Regions from separate parts of the Homo sapiens genome. Here region 1 is linked to region 2. The links come from fine-mapping of genetic effects on gene expression. A gene starts in region 2. The other region holds a variant in brackets. All regions are shown on one strand. Distances are from middle to middle. Region 1 has its middle 33 kb from the start of INSIG2. Region 2 holds the start of INSIG2 (insulin induced gene 2).

The links. PIP is the estimated chance that this variant, and not a neighbour inherited with it, causes the effect.
Region 1: its variant is fine-mapped to the expression of INSIG2 in subcutaneous fat (GTEx, PIP 0.98).

The regions. Positions count from the first base shown.
Region 1 is chr2:118,117,229-118,125,567 of GRCh38, forward strand. No RefSeq gene overlaps it. Among named protein-coding and RNA genes, the nearest start is that of INSIG2, 33 kb to the left of the region's middle. RefSeq lists an enhancer at 5,791-6,990. The variant A/G (reference allele first, on the strand shown) is at 5,024.
Region 2 is chr2:118,084,955-118,093,293 of GRCh38, forward strand. INSIG2 (insulin induced gene 2) reads left to right here and starts at 3,517. Exons shown (of 6, transcript NM_016133.4): 1 at 3,517-3,587. It overlaps LOC107985940 (a long non-coding RNA gene), which reads right to left and starts at 3,477. Exons shown (of 3, transcript XR_001739662.3): 1 at 3,297-3,477. RefSeq lists enhancers at 3,222-3,271, 3,282-3,471.

The DNA.
Region 1 (8,339 bases), 32 kb after region 2:
TTCCTCTGACACCCAGGCTGGAGTGCAGTGGTGCAGTGGTGTGATCATGGCTCACTACAGCCTCAACCTTCAGCCAGGGCAAGCAGTCCTCCCACCTCAGTCTCCCTAGTAGCTGGGACCTCAGGTGCGTGCCTGGCTAATTTTGTTTACTTTTGTTTACTTTTTGTAGAGACTGGGTCTCAGTATGTTGCCCAGGCTGGTCTCAAACTCCTGAGGTCAAGCAATCCTCCTACCTCAGCTTCCCAAAGTGCTGAGATTTCAGGAGTGAGCCACTGCACCCAGCTGAAAAGAGACAGTCTTCACAGGTTTTGACTTCTCACCTTGTTTAAAGGTTTAGTGTGAGAGAAGTCTGTATGAATGATTGTGCTGGAGTCATTTTTGATGTGACCCATACTATATAAGTGGCTAGCTTTGTGGGAGCCATGTGCCTGGGCTGTATTGATGGTACATTTTGTAAGAGGAAGAGCAGCATGTTGACACTGATCAGGAAAGCTCTGAAAGGTGTGGGCATAGGTACCGATGGGGTTCAAAGGAAGGAGCAGACCCAGCTGGAGGAGGCCAAGGCCTTTCTCCTTGGATGGTATGGACAGGAAACCCACGTGGACAGATTCGTGCATGTTCTCTCAAGAACCGAAAGTCTGGTCTGGTGGTAGTAAAGTCGCAGGTAGAGGAAGTGGGTGGAAGGGAGGACTTCTAAAACATAGGGATTGGCTTCTCTTTGAGGATTTAAATGGCTCCTGTACTCATGTTTCTTCTCAGGCAGGATCTACAGCTGTCCATGGGGGTTCCTTTTAGGAGGCCTGCAAGTAAGACTGCCACACCCACCACAGTTCCTGGTGTTCCCTTTATTAAAAAGCATCATTGCCAGGCTCTTATGTAAAAAGAAGGCCGGGCGCGTTGGCTCACGCCTGTAATCCCAGCACTTTGGGAGGCCGAGGCAGGCGGATCACCTGAGGTCGGGAATTTGAGACCAGCCTGACCAACATGGAGAAACCCTGTTTGTACTGAAAATACAAAATTAGCCAGGCATGGTGGCACATGCCTGTAATTCCAGCTACTCGGAAGGCTGAGGCAGGAGAATCACTTGAACCTGGGAGGCGAAGGTTGCGGTGAGCCAAGATCACGCCATTGCACTGCAGCCTGGGCAAAAAGAGTGAAACTGCGTCTCAAAAAAGAAAAAGAAAAAGAACATTCTGAGTCTGATCAAGGTGTGTGATCTTGGGTTGTGGTGGAGAGAGCCAGGGAAGAGTCAGCTGTGGGAGAGAGAGAACGCAGGCTTTAACTCTGGGTGAGTTACTCGCAGACTGGGACGCTGGGCATGTTCCTCATGCTTTCTAAACTTCAGGTTGCTACCTGTAAGATGGAGACACAATACCACTTTTGTCTGAGGGCTGTTAACATTAACTGTGATAACATTTCAAAGGCTTAGCTCATAAGGGCTTTCCAGTGAAGTATTGGTTCCTTTCCCTCTCTCCTCATTCACTTCAAAGCATGAGTGTGGAGCCAGCACATTGGCATTTACTTTGGATTAGGTTGCTTCCCTAATGTTTCTGTCAAAATGAGAGGAAGCATAGTACACGAATCACTGTGCTTGCTGACACCTTGCCACAGCTCCACTCATCGGTTAGTTAACAGGGAGCAAATTCTTAAGGACATAGGACAGAAACTGGCTGGTTGTTATTATACTGATTAATTGATTGATTGACGGCAGGGATGAGGGTTTGGCCAGTTCCGGCAGGGGCTGCTTCCATGGAGGGAAGCTTAGGTAGGGTGCCGCAGGATGGCATGAGTCTGCTGGAGAGCGAGGAAAGGAGATGGGAGGTAGGAGATAGATTTTGTCAGCATCTTATTTTCACCTAGGGATGATGGCTCTGTCCTCATACTTTATAGTGTCACCACCGTGAGAGTGCAGTCTCCTGAGGGAGGAGTTACATTTTAATTAGCCACAAGGTACCTGATTTCTGATGTATCAGTCCTTTTCTCTAGGCCTCATTGTTTCGGATTATTTTTGCCCATGTCCTCCACTTGCCTACTCCTTTCATTTGTATCAGAAGGAAACCACCAAGCAGCCTGGAAATCCTGTTACCAGACCTCAGGATATTAATTGTCAAGTTCTCCCCCACGGTTACACAAGTGCTGAAAAAGTGGTTCTCTTTCAGTAGTGTCTTGTCAAAATGCCAGGCACAGTTTGTTTTTGACGTTTGCTGCTATTGTTAAATAATAGTCTTGCTTCTGTCATAGCTAATGTTGACTTGAAGGCATTTGGAGGGCATTTCTCAACTCCAGCCTTAACAGCAAGACCTGGGTCTTGACATATTTTTCTTGCTTGCCCAGGGCAACTGAGTATAAGGGTTGCAACCTTTGCTTTTCTAAGCTCCAAGAAAATTTCAGCTGGGTATGCACCACCTTAAGCCATAGATCCAGTCGTATTCACACATGCACACACAGACATAAACCCACAGACACAAAGACACACACACACAGACAAGTTGAAGTTCTTGAAGTTTTGCCATCCTAGGAATCACATTTAAATAACTTAAACAGTATCCCATATTAGGACTCCTCAAATCCAGCTGTTCTGCCTTGGTAAACCTCTATCAGAATGTCATACTTAATTACACATCTGTTTAAAAATCAACATGCATTTTTATTGTTTCTGTATTTGCAATGGAGCAAGCCCCTGAACGCTGCTCATCTAGCTGCATGCATGGCGTACCATCTGTCAGAGAGAAGCTGGGTTCTTCATGCACAGCGCTTTCTTGTGTTGCTATGTCCATTAGAAATTTCATTTCTGCTCCCTTTCCCACTTTTATGTGAAGGCATCTTTTGAGTTTTTCCTCTCAAGCCTTACAGGCGACATGTAGAGACCTTCTTCTAATGGGATCGTTATTTCTGAAATGTTCACCATTTATGAGGTAATGGAGAGGGGGGCAAGAAAAAAATGGGCAGAGTGAGTGAGAACTGCTCAAGAATTCTGTGGAACTGCGTAGGCGTTGGCATTATTTGTATGTGAAGAGGCCAAGAAATGCACAGTTGGTTTCAAAATAAATACCAAAGGAATGGTTAATTACACAAGTCTGTTTTGCATTTCTAGAAAAATAGAAATATGTCAGTCATTCGGATTTCCAATAACTAAGGCAACATGGGTTTGGAGGCTTATTTATATATGGAGTTGCAGATTGTAGACCTAATGGTGTGTTCTGCTACATACTTTTCCGTGAGTATCTCTATGTCCCTAAATTCAATTTCACTTTCTACCTTTGAGAATAATTTTTAGAGATTTCCAAAATTACAAAATGTGAGCATATGAATTATTCTGTCATCACCTCTTACATCTCTCAATTTTTAGAGATTTCCCAAATTACAAAATCTGAGCATGAATTGTACTACCATCACTTCTTTTTCTTTCATGAGGTAATATTATTTGAGAGACTAATTTTAGATGTCAACAGTTTGTCTTCCTCCGAGAGGAGTTTGGGTTTCTTTACGATAAACATGCAATTATCCCATGATGACTCGTATATATTAAACAGCCATTTAACTGACATATAAGACTCAGAAGAATGGTAAAGTTGGAAGAGGCACTAAAATTCATTTAGAACAGCCCAATCTTGTCATTTTACAAACGCAGAAGCAAAGCCACAAATTGATTACGTTTGTCCCGAGTTCTACAACCAGTCAGTGGCAGAATCAGACATTTCAGTAGCTTTAGCGTGATGTTACATTTCAATTTATGAAAGATGGAAATTTAATTTTATAATTATGCAAGGTTTACAGCAACATAGCATGTATGTTGACAACTGGTAGGAAATGGACATTTATGAATTATGAATGTTTCTATTATGAAGGGCAATTATTACCTTAAGTAGTAGCTGGTAATGAACACTGAATGCCTACTATGTGCTTTACATACACCACCTCATTTCAAGTCCCCAATAAAGCCATAAAGTTGATATTACAATCTATAAAGTATAAGGTCAGTACTTCATATGTGAAGAAACAGAGGCTTAGAGAGATTATACACAACCTGCTAAGGCCACACAGCTAGTATGTACAGCTGGGCATAGAGCCAGGCCCTTGTTCTTTTTCCCAGGATGCAATCTGCACTGCCTGTGGGTGTCAACACAGAAAGTTGGTGGAATCTGGTTTATTCCTATACAATGTTAGATGTGGAACTTAAACATATATGTGGAAGTTATGCTCTTGCCCTTTCTAAACAAGTGTAAGTTTTAATTGAGGCAAGGAACAACTTCACTAGTATAATTCTTGGCAAAGAAAGGAGTTCTGAGCCTGAGATTTACTATTTTGTGGTGCAGTAAGTTGGATGTCTTGAAACAAGAGGTTTGGAGAAAGATTATTTGCGTCATGACTTATTAAAGTGGAAATATTTATAAATCAAAGAATTGGGTTATATGGTCTCATAATGAAGAAGCAGAATGTAAGGTACACCTTACCAGATGCAATTTAATTTATGACTTACATTTGAACCTCTAAGTCATTAAATATAGTCTTCAATTTTAAGACCGAGGTTGGCATGTCCAGAAGAGAATAACTATGAAATGCACACATCGTTTTCTCAATTTTCATTAGACTTGCATATGAAAAAAATCACAAGCATTATTTATGAAGTTTGAAGTGATTTCTGCATACTTTGATCTTTTATATTTTGACATTCATGACCTTAGTGAAGACAGGACAGTAAAAATATGATTAGGCTAATTGTCAGATCAAGGACTCTGATTAATGAAAATAAATGGAAGAGGTTGATTATTTTTTTCTTCCTCTGCCCCCCTTTACCCTGGAAAGAATATCCTAGAAACCACATTAAACTGCACTTCCCCTGAGCACATCCTTCCTAACTAGGCTAGTCGTGAAACTGGAGTGCAAGGCCAGGTGGAGGAATGGGGTTGACTCAATGGCAATCCAAGGCTGACAGCTGTGCTAATGGATGACTTAGGCAAGAAATACAGTGATTGACTCATGAAATGAAAAGCAGGACTGGTCTCACGGACAGCTGGGATTC[A/G]GACTTCAGAAAGCCTCCATCAGGACTTAGCTTCTTTCCAGCCCTTTGCCCTTTCTGCTGTGTTGGCCTTAGTCTTGTGCTTCACAGTGGCAGGATGGCTTTGGCAGCTCCATCCTCATGTCCTCTCCCCTCCACATCCCACCTCTCTGAAGTCTCAGCAAAAGTCTCATGATTTATTGGCTTTGGTCAGGTCAGGTGTCCATTGCTGAAAACCAATTCCCATGGCTGGTTCTCCACAGAAAAAAATAAAATATGACAAAAATGAGGGTAAACGTAAAAAACAGAAAACAAACAAAAAAAACTGTCCTATGTCAGAGCCAAAAAATCATAATGAAGTGGAAGCTGCAAAAGCAAGAGAAAGGCATGAGTTACAGAGAGAAGCAGAAGTTGGAGATGAGGAAAAGGGGAGGATGGGGGAGAGCGAGAGGGAGGGAGGGAGACAAAGCATCTGACATTTTTCTACTTCCCCTGAAACCTGTGCTTTCCTTCCAATAAACTCTTTAAAAATGATTTAAAAGTTGAGTGGTTTTCTGTTCTTTGTAACCAAATGACCATGACTAAGATATTTTGCTAATGTTCCCTTTACCAAGTAAGGCTGGATTCCATGTGACATGTAAGTTACAGAGGCCCTACAGTTGACTGTGTTCCTCTGTGGGAAGAGAAAACTGCTTGCCAAACAGATCAGAGATTTTTTCTTTTTGGAGCAATTAGATATATGGTTTGAAATAAATGATCTTGGAGGCCCATGAAATTTGAGGTTCTGGGGTTCTCTGGTTTTCAAACAATACCTACACTCAGTTTCATGCAAAACTAACCATTTTTCAGCCCAGCCCAACTTTCTCACTTGGTGTAGAGGAGGAGTTGCTGTAGTTAAGCATTAACCGGCTGCACTTCCTCTTAAGTGGAATCTTCTTTGCAAGTGAGAACATTTAGGCCAAGGGGGTTGGAGACACCATTGAAGCAGTTCTCTTGAGTCTGAGCTGAACCACAAGGAGACCATTTCAGAATCTTGTTTGAAATGAAAACTAGGAGAACTGGGAAAGGAAATTCTAGAATCTCTCCAAGAAATTCATCCCAAATTTTAGCTACTTTCATCTTCATCTGGCGTTTACCACATACTAATATTAGGTTAGAGGGCTCGTGAGTCAATTTTTTCTTTAAGATAATAGGAATGCATTTTATTCAGTTTCTGCTGTAGGGCCCAAAGTAGGCAGGTAGTGGGACTACTTTATAGTGCCACGATTTGAGATAAAGACCGCTGTTTCTGTTCCCATACCCCTCACAGAGATTCTGTGTCACTAGAGGGCCAGGTTTCTGGGGCTTGCTGTCGATCTCACCTTGCTGGCTCATCGTGAATGAATGCAGGTGGAACACCACCAGTCACAGCATCAGAATGCCTTTCTGAAAGCCTCTTGTGTGGATTGTCCAGGAGTGTCACCCTTAGTCATCTGGCTTAGGTCCCTGCCCCACCCAGCTAAACAACTTTGATTTTTGGCAAGTCAAGTAACTCCACTGGGATAGAATGTCTTTGGAATTTCCGAATGAAATTCTCTTATCTTGCCAAAACCATTATGTCCTTTCTTAGTAAAGTTGATACACTGGGTCAGTCTCCCCAGATATGTCATAACTCCTTTCTTTTTTCATAATTACTGGAATGAATGTGGAATGGAATGAAAAAATAATAAAAATCTCACCATCTGAAGCCAAGCTATGCAGGGAGATGTTAGATCACTTTTGGCAACAGAGAAAGGCTCTGCAAGCTGGACTTGGAGATAAATACCAGCAGCTCATCCCTTTATGTACTATATTTTAATGGCCATCCTCTCCCCTGAGGGCTGACTAGTATTCTCTCCTATTGGCTAACATTAGTTCTTACTTGTTCTGGGAAAATGCCTGTTTCCAAGGGTGACACCCACAATCTATAAACAAAGAATGAAGGTCATGTGCATGGGAATTGGAGAGAGAGGAGGTGCTTATAAAAAATACAAGTCTTCCCACCTAGAAGGATTTGGCCCTTGTGGAATTTTAGTTTTCTTTACTTCCAATCCCCCCAGTCCTAAATCATTTTATATATCCTAGTAATATTAAACATGAATGTATTCCACAGCTGGGTGATTTATTCAGGACTCAAAAAGTATACATTATTTAGATAATATTTGATTACATCATCTTTATTTCTCCTATGGTGCTGGCCCTGCAGTCCTGTGAGGTGAGGTAGGCAGGAGTTGCTATTAAACCATTAACCCATGTCATCCAGCAAATGACAACCTCTTGCTGCCACAAATACAGCTTCTGTGCATTGTGAGGGGCAGCGATGCACAGCAGGAAGGCTCTGGATAAAGGTCCAAATACCAGGGGTCTAGTTTTAGTTCTCCCGGCAGCTTGCTTAGCAGACTCAAGTTCCTGTTTCTTCACGCATGTAGTGAAGCCAGTGGGTGAGTTGGTCTCTAAAAGCGGCAACAGAGCACAGTGTCTCAGGCTGGGGCCCCGGCTCTGCTGCTCACTAGCAGTTTGAACCTGCGCAAGTTATTTTACGTCCACGTGCCTTGCTTTTTTTTTTTTTAATTTGTAAAATGGTGGCATTATAAATTGATGTAAGAGTTAAATAATCTAAAACATACAAAATATCTAGAAGAGAACTTGTCTCATAGTAAGTGCTTAGGTGTAATTATTAGCAACATCACCATTTAAAATCCCCCACCAAGCCATGAGTAGACCTTGTCCTACCCACCATGGAGATATAAAAGGAGGACTGAGTTTTCCAACTTGATTTGGGAAACAAAATTTATGTATAGGAAAGATAGAAAACAATAAAAAATTACCTGATTGAATAAAAAGTTGATTCTTCCTCCTTTCAAATAATACCAATAAAAATGAGAAAATATAGACCTTGTTGAATTTTGGGGCAGGGGCCTTTCTTTACAGCCAGAGTGATGTTTGATTGGAGATGATCTACAGACCCTGTGATTTCTCCATACTCTACCTTCCCGCAGGAACTGGCACCTCCTCGGCCTCTCTACATCTCAGTTTCGAAAAAGCAGCACATCCTCTCAAATCAATTTGACTGAAAATAAAGATATAAAAAGACCTAAGCGACATAATCACAAACGTAGATATGATGGATAGATGTCATACTATGTGCCCTGAAGTTAGGGAATATATTTTAGTTTCGAGTGCCCATGGAACAGCCACAGTAATTAATCCTACCATTGACCATTGCAAAGAAAATCTCGATGTCAAAAAGTAGCAATAACTTCAGGCTAACTTGGACTTGTTCTTGTGCAAACAGCCTACGCATGGGTTCTGATAAACCACA
Region 2 (8,339 bases):
ACTTAGCTATGAAGTGACCTTGGACTGATTAACACTAAGTCAGTGATTCTCAACGCTCAGGTGGGGCTCGGGCACTAGAACTTTTAATAAATCTATGGGTGATCCTAATATGCAGCCAAAGTTAAGAATCACTGCTTTTAGCCTTAATTTCTCATCTGCTATTTGGTATCTATTTCAAATGGGTTTTGAGCATGTGAAATGAGATTTAACTTAGCACAGTGCCTGGCACACAGAAAGTGATTACCATCAATCATGATGTTAAAATACAACTTCAATTTGCAATTTTCTTTTCAATTGCTACCCCCAGCTCTGCCTTTCTTTCAATTCCCAGAATGCACCAAGTTTTTCAGCTTTTGTGCCCTCACACCTGTTCTTCATCCTGCTCTTAGCAGATCCCTCTCAATCTTCAGCTCACGCATGGTCTCCAGGTATTCCCCTTTATTCTCCATCACAATATGGAGATGTTCCATCTTCATGGCACTTGTCTCAGTTTGTAATTACATATGAATTCCACCATTTACTGTGTTTCCCCCACAGGACTCTAGCTTCACAAAGGAATGTGGCTTGTCTGTATTGATTTCCTCCTAAAGTCCAGTGCCAAGTGTCTGGTACCTGCCAGGTGCTCAGGTGATAGCTGGCTTAGTAAATAATCCATTCTGATCTCTCAAAAAAGCAAAATTCCTTGACTTTCTATGTCCCTCAAACATATTTCACATCAAAACACCGTAACAAAAACCAAAACCAAAAAAGTAGAATGGTCTGTAGTGTGTGGGGTTCTAGCTACTGAATAGGAAAATTGCAATAGTAAAAAAATTATCTTGGATGTTTTTAATTTGGGTAATGTTTCCAAGTCCAAGGTTCTTAGAGGCTTACTGAATGGCTTAGTCATCAACCTGTAGGCAATAATTAATGTGACTCCTACAATATCTCACTCCAACAAAGTCAATAAACTTTTGTGGGTGTTTGTATTAGCTAAGTAAAGGGCTTTTTGTTTTCTAACTTATCTTTGATCTTCTTGGTTGGGAGACCAAACAACATATAAAGCTAATGGAAAAAACCTTTCTTGAGGTCAAGAATTATCAAATTGTTGATACTTCTACCTATAAAAAAGACCTCAGAAATCATCTAAACCAATCTCTCATTTTACAGATGAAAAGAAGAAAGCCTAAAAAAATGAATTTATTGCAAGTGATTACACGCATACTGTCTTAGTGCTAAAATACAATCCAGGTTTCAAGGATCATTCACCAGCGTTCCATTGACCACATTACACCAACTTCAAAATAACTCAGTTGTTATGATTTCTTGATGTTCTTAACCAATTTATATTCTGGCATCAATTAATTTAGGATTTCCATGTTTCCATAACAAAAATTTAGTCCAAATTCATGAGCCTGATGTTTAGAACTCACATGTCTCACCATACCTCTTTGTACATGCCAGACTCTGCAATCTGTTTCATGTTTTTCCAACTCTGAGCTTCCACCAGAATGCACAGGCTAACCATATCTGCATATTTACCCTCAACGCCCACTGAAAGACCACATCTTCCATGAAAACTTTCCTCAAATCTGGTCAAAGAAGACAATGGCCTTTTGTATTTCTCCTAGGGATTTTATATTCCTCCTTGTACTGCAGTAGGAGTAACTGCATTAGATATAGGAACCTTGGAACTGGTGCTATATGGTTTTTGCTTTTTAGGTTCTGTCACTACTTGCAATTAATACATATTTAAACGAAAATAAATGCCCCTCTAGGTTACAATGTTCCATAAGGATTTTCTTGAAGGCAATTTCTAAGTGTCTGAAAAAAGCTCGGTTGGAGTAGACATGAACTGGACATACAGGACTTGTATTGCTTTAAGGAAATACATGATGTCAGAACATTTTCAAATTATTGTCTCTTTTCTGAATGCTTTCTCTATTCTTTTAAAAATCATCGTCCATTCTGTATAATTGGCCCAGATCTTTCTTACTGGTAGTGTAAAAACTTACAGGAGTGAAATTTGAAAGCTACAGAAAACATTAGAGAAAACACTAAGATATAGGAAATGTTAGAGAAGCATCATGCAAATACTTGCCTAGAAACATTTTGTTGGAATTCAGATTCTTTTTCAATTTTCAGAAGTAAATGTAGATAAAAAGGTCAAAAAACAAAAATCCATCTTATCGTTTATCAGTTCAAAGTAAATGAAAGGAGTTTACCATCTGACAGTCCTTTGGAAAACTATTATGCAATTACTCTCGGCCCAGATTTCATCTAGAACATTCAAGTCCATTGTAATCTTACCACATCCATACACGTTTTGGGTTAAGCCACCTCCAAATGGAATAGCTCAATAACTAATACACTCAAGAGAGATTATTTTTTCTCTCTTTTTAAAAAGAGTTGCTTAAAAAAAACAAATTCAGGGGGCAGCTCACGCCTGTAATCCCAGCACTTTGGGAGGATGAGGCGGGCGAATCACGAGGTCAGGAGTTTGAGACCAGCCTGGCCAATATGATGAAACTCCATCTCTACTAAAAATACAAAAAGTAGGCAGACATGGTGGCATGTACCTGTAGTCCCAGCTACTGGGGAGGCTGAGGCAGAAGAATCACTTGAACCCGGGAGGCAGAGGTTGCAGTGAGCCGAGATCATGCCAGTGCACTCCAGCCTGGGTGACAGAGAGAGACTCCGTCTCAAATAAATAAATAAATAAAAATAAATAAAAATTCAGAATAGGGAAGCAACTCCTCCTTATGACGAGTACCTTTCGGCACTTATATGGGCTTGCTTTTGCATTGATGGCACCACTTTCATTCAAAAAAAAAAGTTCGCTTGCACAATCTGCAAAGATCTGTTTGGCTTGGTTTCATGTTCTAAAAGTATGGTTTTAGATTAAATGAAAAATAATACTTCTGAAAAATAAGCGGTTATAAGGTTTTTAAGTTTTCTTTATGTTGGTGTAAACTTATAAAGCCCTTCCTATGAAAACTGTCCCCCAAATCACATTACTTGGTCGTCCTCGAGGAACGATTTTGAATGAAAAGCACATAAAGTGCTGTAGCATGGAGACGAGAGACAAATAACTATGCCCTTCTCCCAAAATAAGTTATGACTTACTAGGGGAGGAAAAGGAGCAAAGAGTATAAAGCCCGGTCCTCTGCGGGAAGTACCCGGAGGCCTGCCCCGGAACGCGCTCCTTTCGGCTACGAGATGAGGGGCACGCAGACGGACGCGCCCCTCGGTGAGTGTGCGTGTATCAGTGCATGATTCCTTTACTCCGCCCACAGGGTCTGGGCATCCGTCATTACCTACGGCTGCCTGGTCAGCAAACAACAGCAGATCCGACAACCGCCAGTCACCTCGACGGTCCACGCCCACCGCTAGCCTCCAGTTTCCCGCAGACCGGAAGCCCTTTTGCCCCGGCTCGCAGGTCCACGTCTTATTGACAGCAGGAACCGGAAGCTCTTCTGCCCCGATCGCCTGCGCGCGGCCTCGTTGGCCGCACAGGCGCAGTGGAGCTCGGGCGGAGTTGTGGGAGTGGAGGAGGAAGAGGCGGTAGGGGGTACGGGGGCTGGTCCCAGAAGATGGCGGAGGCGGGGGTGAGTTGGGGGTCTCCCGGCGAAGCGCGGGTGACGTGGTGCTGAGGAAAGCGGCCTGAGGAGGAGGGTGGCCCTTGGGAAGAAGAACTACTTGTGTTTTTGCAGCCTGGGAACCCTGGTGGCAGGTGCGGGGAGCCAGGACCACTGATGGGCCTGCAGGGCAAGGGGCTCCGCTTACCTGAGAGGGGTCCGCAAGGTCCAGAAGGGGACTGCGGGATCGGGGAGGGGGTATAGGAGGGGTCGAGGCTCCCCGGACAGTGGATGAGTGTCTGAGCGGGAAGAAGGCTGGAGGACGGCGAGAAGGGCGACCCAATGGTCTGATGAGGTGGAGGTCAGCGAGCTGTCAAGCATAGAGCTGCCAGGACTTGGGGGCTTGTAGCCTGGGAGAGAAGACTCAGACTTGGGCGGGGATTGGATCCAAAGAAGACAGGTTGTCGTAGTAAGTTTATAATCCACTAAGGAGATAGGGCATTGGGTTGAGGAGTAATACTCTGGCATTTTTGACTGGAATTGGTTACCTATGGAATAGGTGTTTCGGTAAAGCCAAATAATTCTTGCCAGGGCCTAGAAGTGGATTTGATGATAATTACTAGATTTTAGGGTTGCTTAGTGGGGATTGGCAATATGGAGAAGGAAAGCAGTGTGGATTATGGGAGTGGGCGCGGGCAATGGCGCTAACACTTAAGTGATAATGACCCATGTCCAGTTAACGTTGGAAAAAGTTGTTAAAGTATGATATTAGCTAGATGCTCTAGGAAAATATACCATGAAGAACTTGCTGTTTTGTAGGATTGATGAAGAAATGCTTTAAAAAGGAATGGTTAGGCTTGGCAGCTGGGCCACTGAAACTGTTTGGTATCAGTATTGCGGTGGAGCTGAGGACTGCAGGGGAATGCGTGCTCCCGTCCTGGTGCAGAAAAAATAAAAGCAGCCAGACAGTAGCTAGATGGTGTTTTGTAACTTTTGGGTTTGGCCCTGATAGTGAACCACTGAATGAAGATGGATGAAGGGAATGCTACTAATGGGGGCCCCAAAGAAAACAAAAATCAGACGTGTGCTCTTCCTGTTTTCTGTCTTTCATTCTTTCCCTGTACTTTGTGCTCAGTACTGTGTTTTGTCATTGTGTTATGTCGTAGTTCTCAGTTCACATCTGCTGTACAGTGACCAAGCTGTGAATCATGTCCACTCGGGAAAGAGGTTGATTCTGTTTAACTGACAACTGTTGCTTTTGCAGATGGTCACACGGAAAAGGAAAGAATAAAATGCAGTTCAGTAGTTTAAAGAGTTTTCTTTGTTCTCAGAAACTTATCTCGAAACGATGGAGTAACTTTTTTAGGCACTGAGATGTGACATTTAAAACCTGTAAGGGGCTGTAAATGCAGCTAACTTACTGGTTTCTATGTTTGGGTTTTAATGTTGAGAGGAAAGAGTTGCAGTGTTTATAAGGCAAATATTGCTTTTCTTCCTAGAAATTTTTAACGTCTCTAGCCCATGATACATGTAGATGTGTTTTTATTTAGGGAGCATTAAACTGTTGCATTGATTTAAGTCTGTTTTTTTCTAATGTTAGTGCTTATTCTATTTCAAGAATGCTATTCTAATTAAGAGAGCATATGATGAAAAATATGTGAGGTAGTAATTTAACTTTATTATTTAGTAGCTTACGTGACCTAAGCACCTGAAGAAACAGGGTTATCTGAGGGAGTAAAAATACTTCTTTTACGGCTAATCATTGGAAGAGGAATGGTCTTGTCATTTGGTTTTAGGGGGTGTTGCAGTTGTTACAATGCAACAGGTTCTTAAGGTTACTAGAAGATTTTGTATGTGTGTTTGTTTTCAAATGCTTGTTGCCTCTAAGTTGTTTCAGTGGCCAACATGAACCTTGATTTTTATTCACGAAGCTCATAATCACTTATAACTCTTTTTTAACCTGAAAGTAATAATATCAATCCATTAATAGGCAGCCATACACCTGGAATAATGTTTTTCCAGTATTGATGATTCATCATTGATCTATGCAAATTATTTCAACTTTTTTTCTTTTTGTTTAGTATTGTACTTTCCAGAAATTTTAGGCCAGGGCTCAGCGTAGAATTTTTCAAGTCTGGTGGAAAGTTTTTCTTTGTGAATTGTTGAAAACATTATTTTGGTATTAATAGTAGTTTACCAACATGATTTTAAAAACGGTTTCTTGTGTGGCACTTAAATTGTTTTGTACCATGTTTGTGAATGGAAGCAGTGTGGTGAAGCAGGAAGAACTCCGGACATGGGGTCAGAGTGGGTGAGCCTAGTCCTGGTGCTACCTGGTAACAGTTCTGTGATCTTGGAAAGTTACTTAACCTATTTTATTTTGTAAAATGGAAACTAACAACACCTGCCTATTTACCAAGATTGTTTTCGAGAATCTATTGACATATTGTCCTTTAAACAGTATCTTTATACCAGAGACTTTTTCCCTGGTCAGCAAATTATTTGTCAAGTAATCTAAATTTTTCAAATATAGATTTTTAAAAAAAATTTTGGAGCATCAAGTTTATCATTAATGTAAGACTAATATTTAAAGATATAGATCCACTTTGTTTTAAGAAAATGGTATCAGTACAAAATCAGAAAAACAAACTTCAAAGTAAACTAAGGGAGCTTACTTTCCCTTGAAAATAACCCACTCCTCTGACTCCTCTAGTGTGCAACTGATATTATAAACATGCTTTTAAAGGAATTTCATTGTTGCATGGTAGGGGGTGAAATGGTTTTGTGGACGCCTCTATCCCTTTGATGAGTCTGGTCATTTTCTGGCATTCACTATACACGTTTGTGGTAATAAGAACTGATGGTACTGTCTTAATCTTGTTAATCCAGTTGACTACTTTGCATGTCATTGGCCTTGCTAATAGAGTGAGAGAATTGTTAGATTACTGATTCTTTACTTTGTTTGGATCATGGACTTTTTTGAGTACTTTATATAAATTATGGAACTTTCATCCCAGAAAAAAATGCATATATATACAACTTTTTTGTTTTGTTTCGCATGGGGGTCTCATACCCCTTGGAATAGATGATTTCCCAGTTCCCTGCTATTTCTTAAAGCTTTTATTTTTTGTCACCAGTAATTATATACTATTGTATTATGATGTAGTTACAAAATTAGCTTTTTGAATCTCATTCAAATAAATGTCAAGCAAATGTGTTATTTTTAAGGAAAACTTTTGGGGCGAAGTAGAAAACTAAACAAGCACTGCCAGGAAAGGTTAAATAAGCAGCTGTGGTAGAAAACATAAATAAACAGAAAGTCTCTAGCTGTCTTGAAATAGAATGAAGTCTGTAGCAATCAGTGGCTCTCATTGTGGGGACAGTTTTGGTTATCACAAATAGGGGAGGGGGCATTTAGTGGGTGGGAGCCAGGGATGCTAAATGTTTTGCAATGCTTAGAACAGTCTCACACAGCAAATAATTGTCCTGCCTAAAATATCAGTGCCCTTTGACAAATGCTGGTCAGTGTGAGATGGGGGCTAGCATGACTGAAATAGCTTTTTTAAACTGAAGTTATTTTCCTTTTTAAAAATACTATTAAACATAAAATACCCCTTTCCATTAATTCCCTTTTGGAAAAATCACAAACAGAAACAAATGATACGCTGTCTCAATGTGGGTTACTCAAAGTATGCCCATCTTCTAGCAGCTGTTAGCAGCACGTGAGGGCAACGTGCTGTGTCTACTGGGATCTGGGGAAGTAAAGAGTCAACTAATGTTCTTATACAGAGTGTTAGTTTGCTATTTTTTCTTTTTACTTTAAAACATTTTCACACCTTGATCTAGTACTATTAAAGAAAATTTCAAGGTGATTTTACATTTATTCTCATCATCTTTGTGCAATTGTATAGTCACCTGCTTGTTTTGGCTTACTATCTGAGAGTGTATTATAGTTGAGATGGTATTTCAACATCTAACCATCTTTTCAGTAACCAAACACTTTTATATAGAACCATCTGCCGAAAAAGAAGTCTGAGCAGTTGAGATGGAATGGAATTCAAGGTATAGAGGCAAGAGGATGGGTTTTGGAATCAGACCTGAAGTGGAATTTCAGTTTTGATACTGCATGTCATGTGACCATAAGCAAATTGCTGAATCTCTTTGACTTGGTAGCCTCATCTGTAAAATGAGGATGATAATGTCTACCTTTATGTTTGTTTTGAAGAGTAGAGTTACTATATGTCTGGCAGGGAGTAGGCCTTCCATAAATGGGTGCCCTATAAAGAATAATGATGATGATGATGAGGAGGAGAGTTCTGTAGCTACTGAACCTTGCTAAAAGCAACCAGATGATGATGATGATGATGATGATGAGGACGAGGAGAGTTCTGTAGCTACTGAACCTTGCTAAAAGCAACCAGATTATGATGATGATGAGGAGGAGGAGGAGGAGGAGAGTTCTGTAGCTACTGAACCTTGCTAAAAGCAACCAGATGATGATGATGAGGAGGAGGAGGAGGAGGAGGAGGAGAGTTCTGTAGCTACTGAACCTTGCCAAAAGCAACCAGATGATGATGATGATGATGATGATGAAGGAGAGTTCTGTAGCTACTGAACCTTGCCAAAAGCAACCAGATGATGATGATGATGATGATGAAGGAGAGTTCTGTAGCTACTGAACCTTGCCAAAAGCAACCAGATGATGATGATGATGATGATGATGATGATGATGATGATGGAGAGTTCTGTAGCTACTGAACCTTGCTGAAAGCAACCAGATGA